Homo sapiens: one gene and its partners. Changing the gene in region 1 together with any one later gene gives a genetic interaction. Each region holds a gene or a part of one and is shown in the gene's direction. Other genes may lie near its edges. The genes, in order: MAPK8IP1, TSPO and ITGA6.

Evidence for each region.
Region 2: changes in MAPK8IP1 (region 1) and TSPO together harm fitness less than expected from each alone (positive genetic interaction), as found in Homo sapiens cells (one large-scale study listed by BioGRID).
Region 3: changes in MAPK8IP1 (region 1) and ITGA6 together harm fitness less than expected from each alone (positive genetic interaction), as found in Homo sapiens cells (one large-scale study listed by BioGRID).

What each region holds. Positions count from the first base shown.
Region 1 is NC_000011.10:45,884,353-45,888,508, forward strand, and holds the start of MAPK8IP1 (C-Jun-amino-terminal kinase-interacting protein 1), read left to right. Parts: upstream 1-1,298; 5' UTR 1,299-1,468; coding exon 1,469-1,569; intron 1,570-4,156. UniProt on the Homo sapiens protein: The JNK-interacting protein (JIP) group of scaffold proteins selectively mediates JNK signaling by aggregating specific components of the MAPK cascade to form a functional JNK signaling module. Required for JNK activation in response to excitotoxic stress.
Region 2 is NC_000022.11:43,149,933-43,154,369, forward strand, and holds the start of TSPO (translocator protein), read left to right. Parts: upstream 1-1,626; 5' UTR 1,627-1,672; exon of another isoform or gene 1,673-4,437. UniProt on the Homo sapiens protein: Can bind protoporphyrin IX and may play a role in the transport of porphyrins and heme. Promotes the transport of cholesterol across mitochondrial membranes and may play a role in lipid metabolism, but its precise physiological role is controversial.
Region 3 is NC_000002.12:172,500,480-172,503,809, forward strand, and holds part of ITGA6 (integrin alpha-6 isoform b preproprotein), read left to right. Parts: intron 1-1,292; coding exon 1,293-1,400; 3' UTR 1,401-1,422; intron 1,423-2,828; exon of another isoform or gene 2,829-3,330. UniProt on the Homo sapiens protein: Integrin alpha-6/beta-1 (ITGA6:ITGB1) is a receptor for laminin on platelets. Integrin alpha-6/beta-1 (ITGA6:ITGB1) is present in oocytes and is involved in sperm-egg fusion.

The sequences.
Region 1 (4,156 bases):
TTCTCAGGGCTGGTGGTCGGAGGTTGCCTTCTGCACGGAAGGTGCCTCCAGCTCCTTGCTAGGTGCCGCACTGAAGGAAAGGGGCCAGCATGACTGGTCGGCAGTCCAGATTTGCAAATAGGACTCCACGAGTTGTGGCACAGTTTGCTCTGCACGTTTTCTGCCCTGTGGACAGGGTCTCTAGGGTTCTCTCGAGAGACCAGAGAAGCCAATGAGGTTTGACCAGAGGCTCTACGACCCAGCAAAGCTAAGGCCCTAGCCTTGGCAGTCCGTACTCTGAAATAACTCAATCGGGAAACTCAGGGACTTGAAGGCCTGGAAGCCCAGGAATAACACCCTCTCGAGGGAGAGACAATGAGGAAGAAGCCATGGCCAAAGCCTAGCAGGGATGGAGGTGCCAGAGGGAACAGAAACAACCAAAATGATCCCAAGAAGTCAACAGTGGGAGGAGAGGGAAAGGCGCCAAGTCTTAGAATGTGTGTCTGTGGGTGCAGAAGAGGGGTGCTCTGCAGGAAATGCAGTTGAGGCGCTAAGAAGGAGAATGCTGGGAAGGTCCTGGCGAGAGACCGAGAAGCCTGGAGGGCTCAATTCACCACGAGTAGCTGTTTGGGGCTGAAGAGAGATTTGGGTCAATCTTTAGAGAAGACAGCCTCTAGGGAGAGTCTTTGGGAGGGTCCCCTCAAGGTAAAGGGACAGGACTGGGGTGAGGGCTGGATCCCAGCGCAGGAGGTGGAGTGTTTCTGGGTCTCAGGCAACACATTTGTGTTACGTTACATTCTCACAACAACCATGAGAGGGACTGCTATTGTCCCATTTCACAGATAAGAAGACCAAACCTTAGTGCTCTGAAGTCACTAATGCAAGGCCCCACTGCCCAGTCACTTGTGGAGCCAGTGAATTCACACCACCTGACTCCAAACCTGTACACTTTAAGAGCCCACTGACATCCTCTCCTTTCTCTGCCTTCCTCCACGACCCTCCTTTTCCGCCTGCCTTCTTGGTCTCTGCTGCGGGGGGCCAACCTGGACCTTGGGGTCCAGTGTCCTGCCATTAGTCATCTGATACCCGGGCACTAAGCCCAACCGGAGGGACAAAGCCCACACCGGCCACGGGGTGGAGGAGAGTCGATGTCGGATTTAGGGCGGGGCTGAACCAAGCCCAGGGCCGCGGGGGCCGTGGCTTCAGCACCGCGGAGAGCGCCATCTCCGGGGGCGGGGCTGGCGGGGTGGGGGCGGGGCCTGGGCGGGGCGCGCGAGACCCCGGCCGGGTCCCGGGGGCGCGCGCGGGGCGCTCTCGCCAGTCCCGCGGGCCGTGCGCGGTGCTGTGCCGCGCCCTGCCAGACACAGGTGCGCCCGCCTAGCCCGAACTCCGCGGCGGCGGCTGCCCTCTCGCCGCGCCTCCGCCTCCTTCGCAGCCGCCGCCTCCTCCGCGCCGCGCTCCGCCCGGATGGCCAGGGCTGTGCCCGAGAATGGCGGAGCGAGAAAGCGGCGGCCTGGGAGGGGGGGCCGCGTCCCCGCCCGCCGCCTCCCCGTTCCTGGGGCTGCACATCGCTTCGCCTCCCAATTTCAGGTGAGAGTCCCCGGCCGCCGCGCGCCTCGCCCTTCAGCGGGGACTGATCCGCATTGGCTGCCCTGCCCGCCCCCCACCCCAGAACCTCGGGAACCCGGGAACGAAAGGGCTGCGTGGGAGTGGGGTCTCTTCCCGGGACAGAGCCCCCCTCAGAAGCCCCGCCAGCCTCAAGTCCGGACTGGTAGCCGTTGCATGTTCACGAGGCTGTTCCCTCCGCCATTCCTGGTCCTAGGCTGGGAGGTCTGCGCTGGAATTGGAGGAGGGGGCTCGGAGGCCTCCTTCTCCCCAACCTCCGGGCTGCGGCAGGGTCTGGGGTCGGGGTTGCGATCCCGGAGCGGGCAGGCAGGCTGCATCTTAGCCTGTGAATAGAGCTGGGAACAGCCTGGAGGGGCGCGGGTCGCAGTTTCCTGGGGCAACGACATTGTTGGTGCTGGGAGGAGGATGTTTGAGCCCCTCCCCGAGCCCTGCCTGGCCAGATGGGCCTACCTGCCAGGCCTGGCGTGGCCGGGCCCCTCTCTGGATTGGGCAGCACCGACCTAGGCAGGTGTGTCTCTCAGGGCAGGCGCTGAAGGCTCAGCCTCAACCAGGGGAATCCTAGGCCCGGCTGCGGGAAGGGAAGTCGGCTCGGCTCTGGAGTAGCCAGGGCCAGCGAGGGTGTCGAGGGGATCCCTGCTGGGGTAAATACCCAGAACCCTGACCTGAGCTCCTATTCCACCACCCCCACCCCCCAATCTGGTGTTAGGCCCGATGCATTTCAGAGAAGTGAGGGGTGAGTGTTGTGTGGAGGAGGAATAGATGTACCTCCCCCATAATTCTGAACCCTAGTTGGTGGGGAGGAAGAGGCCGAAGTCACTGCTCCCGGCCTAGAGAGGGAGGCTTAGACATACCCCATTGTTTCCCCATCTCGAGAACTGGCGCCTTCCCCTCTCCTGGGGCACCACCCCAGCCAGGCTCCAGCTGGGCTGTGGTGCCAGCCCCTCCTGGGAGCAAGGGGTCACTGGCTCCCAGGTCCTCAGGTGGGCAGAGACCCCTGGGGATCTCTAATAGCATCATCAAACTCAGAAACCTTCCCTGAGGCCCTGAGCTGAGCTGGAAGGACCAGAGGGGGCCAGATGGAGGAGGCCAGGCCTGAAGGCTCCAGGGCTGCAGCTCTCTGATAATGCCTTAGACTGAGGTCTGAGACTCCACCTGGCATGGTGCATGAGGCCTCCATGCAAATACTGCCTCCCCACCTGGAGGCCTCTGCAGTGGAAGCACATGGGGCTTAGAGGGACCTGGGTTCAAATCCTAGCTCCACTACTTTCTAACTGCATGACCCAGGCAGGTTTTTGTCCTCTCTGGGTGCCATCTGTTAAGTGGGCTAATTAATATTGATTCTTGCCTGGAAAGGAGAAAAAGCACATCAGGTCAGTGTTCAACAAGTGTCAGCCCCCACACTAGCAGACAACACTACGGCTCGCTGCTGTCCAGAGTGTCTTCCCAAGGCCCCTCCTTTAACCCTCATAACTGCCCCAAGAGAGGGTAGTGACCTGCCCATTTTATAGATGAGGTGATTGAGATTAACAAAGGCAGGGTGGCTCATCTGGAGACTACAAAAGAGTCAGAGACTAAGGCTACACTGGGACCCAGGTCTGTGCGTGTTTAGTCCACTCTACGTCCCAGCCCTGCCTCTGGCCCAGTGGGCAGCTTTTCTTCCTCGACCTGCTTCCCCAGGTGTCATAGATGCTTTAATGAGAGGAGCTGAGGAAGCAGACACCAGCCAGTGAATGTGTGGCCAGCTCTGCGGCATGTGGGACAAGGGTGGCAGTAGGCCACGAGGCTGAGGTGTGGGCCAGCACTCCAGAACATGGTGGCCTGGCTGCGGAGACAAGGCCAGTGCGTGGGAATAATAAGCGTCAGTGTCTCAGGCCCTGCCGGCCTGCCCCGCTGCTCCCAAAGCCCCCGCTGCCCTTTCTCCTGGCCCGCCTCTCACTGTGCTTGGCCAGGCTCCACTTAACCCTGGGTGGGTAGATAGTGCTTTCTTGTGGCTCTTTGGTGGAGTCATAGATCCAACTGGCCTGGGTTTGAATCCTGGCTGGCCCTTCTTACCTGTGTGCCCTGACACTGGGCACTTAAGCCCTCTGAGCCTCTGAGATGCCAGCACTGGCCCCTGCTCAGGATGGTCCTAAGAATCAGATGAGATAACACGTGTTGAGTGTTTCAAGGGCTGAGGAGAGCCGCCTGTAGGCAGGGCTGTGTGTGTGCACACACACACAGGCGCCTTGACCCCCAGTGCCACTGTCAGCTCCCAGAAAATAAAGGGGGTCTGTACCCAAACTTTGGTATCCCCATTGCTCAGCACGGGATAGTTACTCAATAACAGTGGTAAGCGCTGACATTTGGAAGGCACTCAGTTCGCCCAGGCACCATTCTAAGAGTTTCCTATGTGCAAGAGTATTTACTCCTCCCAATAACTGTATCAACAGAGCGTTGTTATTATCCACACTTGCATGAAGAAACTGAGGCAGAGGGAGGTTAGGTAAGTGGCAGAGCTTGTAAGTGGCAGGCAGTCTGATGTCAGAGCCACCCCAAAAAGAAAGAGCCCTAG
Region 2 (4,437 bases), on another chromosome or scaffold:
CACTGCAACCTCTGCCTCCTGGGTTCAAGAGATTCTCCTGCCTTAGCCTTCCAAGTAGCTGGGATTACAGGCACACACCACCATGCCCAGCTAATTTTTGTATTTTTAGTAGAGATGGGGTTTCACCATGTTGGCCAGGCTGGTCTCGAACTCCTGACCTAGTGATCCACCCACCTCGGCCTCCCAAAGTGCTGGGATTACAGGCATGAGCCACCGTGCCTGGCCAGAAGGAATTTTAAAAAAGAAAAAAAAAAAAAAAAACAAAGCTGCCAGGTGCGGTGGCTCACGCCTGTAATCCTAGCACTTTAGGAGGCCGAGGCAGTGGATCACTTCAGGTCAGGAGTTCGAGACTAGCCTGGCCAACATGGTGAAACCCCATCTCTACTAAAAATACAAAAATTAGCCGGGCATGGTGGCAGGCGCCTGTAATCCCAGCTACCGGGAGGCTGAGGGAGGAGAGAATCACTTGAACCCAGGAGGCAGAGGTTGCAGTGAGCCGAGATTGTGCCATTGTACTCTAGCCTAGGAGACAAGAGCGAAACTCCGTCTCAAAAAAAAAAAAAAAGAAACCCAGAAGAAAAAGATGAATGAAGAATGGAACCAAGCCTGGGTTATCCTTGTCTTCAGGCCAACACAGTAAAAAATAGATTTATGTATGTTTGTTTTTTAATAGAGGAAGAGGCTCACAAAGGCAAAAATGCCAGGTCCTAGGAAAGCCATACTGCAGCCTGGCTGGTCCCCAAGGAGGCTCCTGGCTTCTGTGTCTGGGTAGAAGTAGCCACAGTTCTCCTTGGACCCTGCAGGATCAGTTTGGGCCAACGTGGCTGGTTCAGGCTGATGGGGCGTTGCCAGGCTGAGTTGTCTGGAGGGAGCTGGGACAGCCTTGAACTGCAGCAAGACAGCCATAGTGCCAAGGGCCTGGGGCTGGACACACCCTGCATGGGAGTGGACCTGGGCAGCTGGAGGCCACCTCTGGGCTGTGATGATGGCAGCCTCCCCTCACTGAGCGCCGAGCATCTGAGGGGTGTCCTGCCTGCATCACCGCGTTGCGGCCTCATCAGTCCCACGACTTTGTGCCCATTTTACAGATGAGGAGATGGAGGCCCAGAGAGCCAGTCAGAAAGTGGCTGGGCCAGGACTAAGAGTGCAGCGCGCTGCCTCCGTGCCCTGCGTCAACAGCTCAAGGAACTGGGGTGCTCCGGAAATGGGGCCAAGGCTGCTGGGCAGCAGGACGCTCAGGGCCTTGGCCTCAGGAGAGGTAATTCCCCACTCGGAGATCGGTCTTGTTGCTGCATTTTATAGATGGGAAAAGTGAGGCTAGAAGAGACGACAAACGACACGCCGTTGGACACACGGCAACGTTTTAGATGTTGGGTCTGGCCGGGCGGCCGTCACCGGTCACCATGGGGAGGAGGAGGAGCCGAGAGACTTGCTCGCGGCCGGGGGGAGGCAGAAGCGCGTCCCGCGGGAGAGGTGGCTTTGAGGAGTGAGCTCCCGGTCCCGCGGGGACGCGAGTGGGCCCAGTGCCCGGGCTGCCAGGCGGGGCGGGGCGGGGCCGGGCGACTGAGAGGGGCGGGGCCTGGCGGCTGGGAGGGGCGGGGCGGATGCGGGGACAGCGGCCTGGCTAACTCCTGCCAGGCAGTGCCCTTCCCGGAGCGTGCCCTCGCCGCTGGTGAGTGAGGACGGGACGCGGAGGGGGCAGCGGGAAGTGGGGGCCCGCATGGCTGCGACTCTTGGCAGCGCCGCGGGACAGAGGGAAACTGAGGCCGGAGCCGCAGACTGGACACCCGAGGGGGCGACCCGGGGCAGCACTTGGGGCTCGGCTACCGGGTCAGGGGGCGGCGGGCAGCAGAGTCTGGGCCTCCGCGGCCGGGGTTCCAGCGCGGGCCGCCTCCGGCTGGGGGTTCGGGAGGGAAAACTTGGACAACCCTGCCACGCCCAGCCCTTGGCCGCGTGGCTTCTCCTGCAGGAAGCGCGGTCCCAGGAGTGGCCGACGCTCCCTCTCCTGCCCATTCCGCGGATGGGCAATCCCAGGCGGAACTCCCTTGAGGGTCTCAGAATATCTGGGAGACCTCGGGCTCTTGATCTCCGAGACACCCCGTTTCGTAGTGGAGAACAGTCCAGATCGGGGAAGTTTATTTTGCCCAAAGCCGGTTAGAGGCCCCCTGGCCCTCGATTCCCAGTGCGGGGCTCAGGTGCGTTGCAGCCTAGACGGGTCTTACTGTGAGCCGAGCAGCCTCTGGGACCTGTCTGCTTCCCCTACCCCTTGCAAAGAAGCCGGAGCCCAGGTAGGAGAAGCGGGGGCTTCCTGCTGTGAACGCGCTGCTGGCCAGGGCAGCTGCCAGAGGCCATGGCCTGGCGTGGGCCTGGAGCCCCTCTGGCCAGCCTGCCAGGGGCCAGGGCTACGGGATACCAGCAGCGTGCCCTGGGCTGGATGGCAGGAGAGACAGGACTTGAGGCTGTCCCAGAATGGGCTCAGGCAGGGCGAGGATATCAGGGGAGGTGGTGTACAGGAAGCAGCCGCCCAGCTTGCCTGGCACACAGCAAGCCCTGCCCATGAAGGCCTACTGCCAGAACAGTGGGCGAGGCCCGGCGTCTCTGTGGAGTCGGTGGGGCCCGGGACAGGGCAGCCTGAGGCAGGTTTCCACTGGCGGTGAAAGGGGCCGTGTGGCAAGGACAGGAGAGCCAGCCTCAGCCCAGCAGGGGAAGGCGGCCCCTGAGTCTCCACCTGGCTGCTGGCAGCCCCACAGGGAGGTTCGGCGAAACTGAGGCTTGCCAAAGAAGCCTTTGTCCAGAGTCACGCAGCTGGCGCGGTGGAGCCAGGGCCAGAACCCGTGCAGGCTGATCCCAGCCTGCCTTCTCCACTGTGCCCCGAGGACCACTTTCTTTCCTGGGAGTGTGTGTGTGCACATGTGCTGTGTCCTGTCGTCTGTACACACTTGTGCCTGGCGTGAGGCAGGATGTCTGGCTGGATCTACCAGAAAGTATTCACAGCGGGTTCTCCAGCTGGGGTGAGGGGCTTGGGCTCGCAGGGAGGGAGCCTACTTTTCACTTTAGCTTGCTTTCTTCCTTTCTTCCGTCCTTCCTTCCTCCCTCCCTCCCCTCCCCTTCCCACCCCTTCTTTCTCTTTCTTCTTTCTCTTTCTTTCTTTCTTTCCTTCCTTCCTTCTTTCCTTTCTCTTTCTCTTTTTTTCTTTCTTCCCCTTCCTTCCTTCCTTTCTTGTTTTTGTTTGTTTGTTTGAGACAGGGTCTCACTCTGGTATGCAGGCTGGAGTGCAGTGATGCAATCATAGCTCACTGCAGTCTCCTGCAGAACTCCTGGGCTCAAGCGATCCTCCCACCTCAGCCTCCCAAAGTGCTGGGATTACAGGCATGAGCCACTGTTCCTGGCTTATTTGTGTTTTCTTTTTTTTTTTTTTTTTTTTTTTTTTGAGACGGAGTCTCGCTCTGTCGCCCAGGCCGGACTGCGGACTGCAGTGGCGCAATCTCGGCTCACTGCAAGCTCCGCTTCCCGGGTTCACGCCATTCTCCTGCCTCAGCCTCCCGAGTAGCTGGGACTACAGGCGCCTGCCACCGCGCCCGGCTAATTTTTTGTATTTTTAGTAGAGACGGGGTTTCACCTTGTTAGCCAGGATGGTCTCGATCTCCTGACCTCATGATCCACCCGCCTCGGCCTCCCAAAGTGCTGGGATTACAGGCGTGAGCCACCGCGCCCGGCTTATTTGTGTTTTCTTTACTTTTGATGGTGCAAACAATGCTTGGATGTGCTCTCTGTTTAAAACGGTAGTCTTTTTTATTTTTTTTTTTAACCACTAGACCACTAGGGAAGTCATTCTTAATTTCTTATTTTTATTTATATATATATTTTTTGAGACGGTGTCTCGCTCCATTGCCCAGGCTGGAGTGCAGTGGCTCCAGCTGGGCTCACTGCAACCTCCGCCTCCAGAGTTGAAGTGATTCTCCTGCCTCAGCCTGGCTAATTTTTATATTTTTAGTAGAGATGGGTTTCACCATGTCGGCCAGGCTGTTTCTTTATTTTTTACTAAAAAAAAGTTTAACCCCCGAACCTCGAAGGAAAGGGAAGTAGTCTTTCTTAACAGAACCAATTCCCCCTGGATACCCCACCCTCACCCTACCCTCTCCCAGGCCACTCGATGGCCAGGTTCGCTGTGGATTTTTCCAGACCTGTGGGCTGTTTCACTGGTTACTTTTGTAATGAAAAATGCACACAAAGGTTACGATGAGGACGATTAGCCATGAATCATTTTTAAAAAGCCTGAAAACAAGTCCCTGGGACAGTGCTGGCTTCGTTGGAGAGACAAGGCTCAGGGGAGTGGGTGCAGCTGGGGGTCGGGGTGGGGATCAGAGAAGGGACACATTCCTTATTGTGTTTCTGGGTCGCCTTCTTTTTTTTTGTTTGCTTTATTTATTTATTTAT
Region 3 (3,330 bases), on another chromosome or scaffold:
ATTAGCTGGGCATGGTGGCGGGCACCTGTAGTCCCAGCTACTAGGGAGGCTGAGGCAGGAGAATGGTGTGAACCTGGGAGGTGGAGCTTGCAGTGAGCCAAGATCGTGCCACTGCACTCCAGCCTGGGCAACAGAGTGAGACTCTGTCTCAAAAAAAGGAAAGAATGTTGCCAAGTTGGAGGCAGGACCAGGCCTCTTGGCTCCTGGTTTATTCTTCTTCCCACCCTATTTACTAGCACATATTATTGAAAGCTGCCCAACAAAACTCTATACTGATGGAAATGTTCTGGAGCTGCAGCATCCAGTATGGTAGCCATTAGTCATGTGTGGCGGTTAGGCACGTGGAATATGGCTGGTTCACTTGAGGCACAGAGTTTTAAATGTAATTTAAATTAATTTCAATCTGAATAGCCTCACGGAGCCAGCAGCTCCCATATATTGTACAAAGTGAATCTAGGCTTTTACCTTCATGAGTTGCTGGACTAGGAATCAGAGTTTTTCAGGAGATTTTATTTGACCAGGTTAAATTTTATAAAAGACAGTTCCATGGCCTTATGAACTAGATAAAAGTAAATAGGAAAAGTTCTCTATCACTGAACGAAGGAAATTATAGTAGAAAGTGGAATTATACTTTTATACTCATTTAGAGTGACCTAACCTGAGGAGCATTGGGTCCCTACCATTTAAGGGTTTTATGGTGCTCAGAGTTTGGGAAAATGACAGCAATCATTCTTTCATGATGGTGTATTCGAATTTGTATTGTGATTCACCCCACAGATCCAAAGGCCTCAAGTAAATGGCATTTGTTCCATAAAATTTACTGTAAAAGGCAGAAAAATACCCATAGTATATCTATATTTTATTTGGATTTGTGCTTTTATTTAGAGAATTTATTTTCTAACCTTTGTCTCAATAAACTGCCGAAGTCAATCTTTTGCCTCTTTTGGAGTTCATATTCTCCTGCAGGAAGAAACTACCCAAAGCTACAATCAGCAATGTATATACGTTTTCCCTATTAGAATGATTTTTGTCCACAAGATTTCTGTTACAAAGAGAAAAATCAATGAGCTGACTAGTGTCATCCATATAAATATTTGACCAGAGATGTATGGTGAAGGGTGTATTGAATATGACAATGAAACAATGCAGTGGCTGTTCATTGTTGGTTGACTGAAAGTGGTCTGTTTGTAAACAAGCCACTAGTAGAAGGCAGATTAAAATTTGAGATGTTCTGTTGTTTGGCTCTTATACACAAAACTGTAAAATTGACTAAATACCTTGCTTCCTTGTAGTGTGGTTTCTTCAAGAGAAATAAGAAAGATCATTATGATGCCACATATCACAAGGCTGAGATCCATGCTCAGCCATCTGATAAAGAGAGGCTTACTTCTGATGCATAGTATTGATCTACTTCTGTAATTGGTAATTGATCAATGTTTTTTAATTGCTAGCTGTGGGACCCGCTATGGTTGTGGTGGCTAACTTTAAGAACAACAGCTTGCTATGTGTGTCCCATTAACAGATGTTTCCAAATGTCCACACTGGCTTGCCTTGCTTGGATTTGTTTTATTTTATTTCACTTGAAAGCTCAGTTTTTGTTTTTTTTAATGCACAGTCTTTCGTTGCAGGTGAGTTATTTTATGTTCTTGTTAAATATCTACCACAGCAATGAAGAAAATTTGCAATATTTGTACACACAAAAAGAGACTTTTAGCCCTCCATAGTAGCCCAGTTTGCAATGTGTTATTAATTCGGTATGTAGCATTCCACTAGGGAATTCAAAGATGCATAAGAAATCATTCTAGATTTCTTGTCCATTTTGGAATTTTCCACAGATAGAAGCTGTGTCGACCGCCTAATTAACCTGTTGCATGTTGGAAATGTTGTGTTTCTCTTGGTGAGGCTTCCTCACTGTCATCTTTTTGTTCTCTTTGCTATAAAGTGATGGGGAAGGCTTGGAATGCTTTTTACTGTTGCTCAGGAATCGTTTTATGCTAGCTAAGCATGCAACTTCCATTTCCTGCATGTCTCCTACAGGTCAAAGACCATTACAACAAACTGATTATCAGCATGATGGGCTTTTATGGCCAACTTCAGAAGATGATCCCTTACCAAAGTTACCTTCCATCTACAAAATTCTAGTACAAAAAATACCCTGAACAGTTTTTATTGCAATATGTTGTGATGGAGTTTGACCATATTTCATGTATCCAGAGATTTTATCCAACCTTGGATCTCAGTTGATTTTAAATTCAAGTTTCTCTTATTTGGAAATACATGGAAATAGGAATTGCTAGTGATCCCTTTCACCATTTACGTGGGCATGAGAGGACAGAATTACTCCTGTAATCCTTTCCATGGCACTATCACAGTGAATCACAACATTGCCATTCAGCTTTACATATTACCCTTAATTTCCCTCTTTGTTTAAATGGGGTAGACAGCAGTCATATTTTGTAATAGATAGGTACTTTGGCTTTTTTTTCTTTTTTTTTGCACAGAATAATAAATGAATCCATGTAGAAATGACCTGGAACAAAACATCTTGGTCCATTTTGCCTATTGATTTAGTGATAACTATACATATAATTTTATCTTGCTCCATGGCATTTTTATAACATAACATCATTCAACATAAATGTCCTGTTACTATTGACGTCACACAATAAACACATTAACAGTTCTATCAATATCCTCATTCTTCTAAACTGCATTTTAAAGTTGAAAACACCTTTTTTTAAAAAAAGTAAATATATTTCATTTAAAAATTTAATCTCAATTCAAATTTTTTCAGATATATTCTCAGTAAAAATATACTTTGGATCAGATTGACTATTTAAATGAATTTTATATATATATATAAACACACACATTAACAGTTTAAAGGTAAATGTATTTTTGCAAAAGAAGAGAAATTAGGGAGTGCTCTGAAATTCAGTGTAGTGATGCACTTCTGAAGTCCTATGCAGCACATGATTTTTATTGCAGGAAACAGTTACTATGTGATTAATGAAATAGCTTAATTAGAAGCACAATAGCAAATCCAGGCAACATAAATGACCTCCTGGCTAATGAGAGAAGTGATATGTGTACTAGAGCCTCAGAGGAGAGAAAAAGATTATAAAGTTGACCTGTTGGAACACTGGCATATTCAAATAGTAATTTGTAAAATACTTGTGACATGATTTGCATTTTATTAGTGGGAAAGGGGCATGAAATAATCTTTGGTTTATGCCATTTAAAAATTATTCTTAATCTAATCTGATAATCAGATATTTTACATATCATATTGTGATTATTTTTAAATATGGAAGCACTGTTTTCATAAAC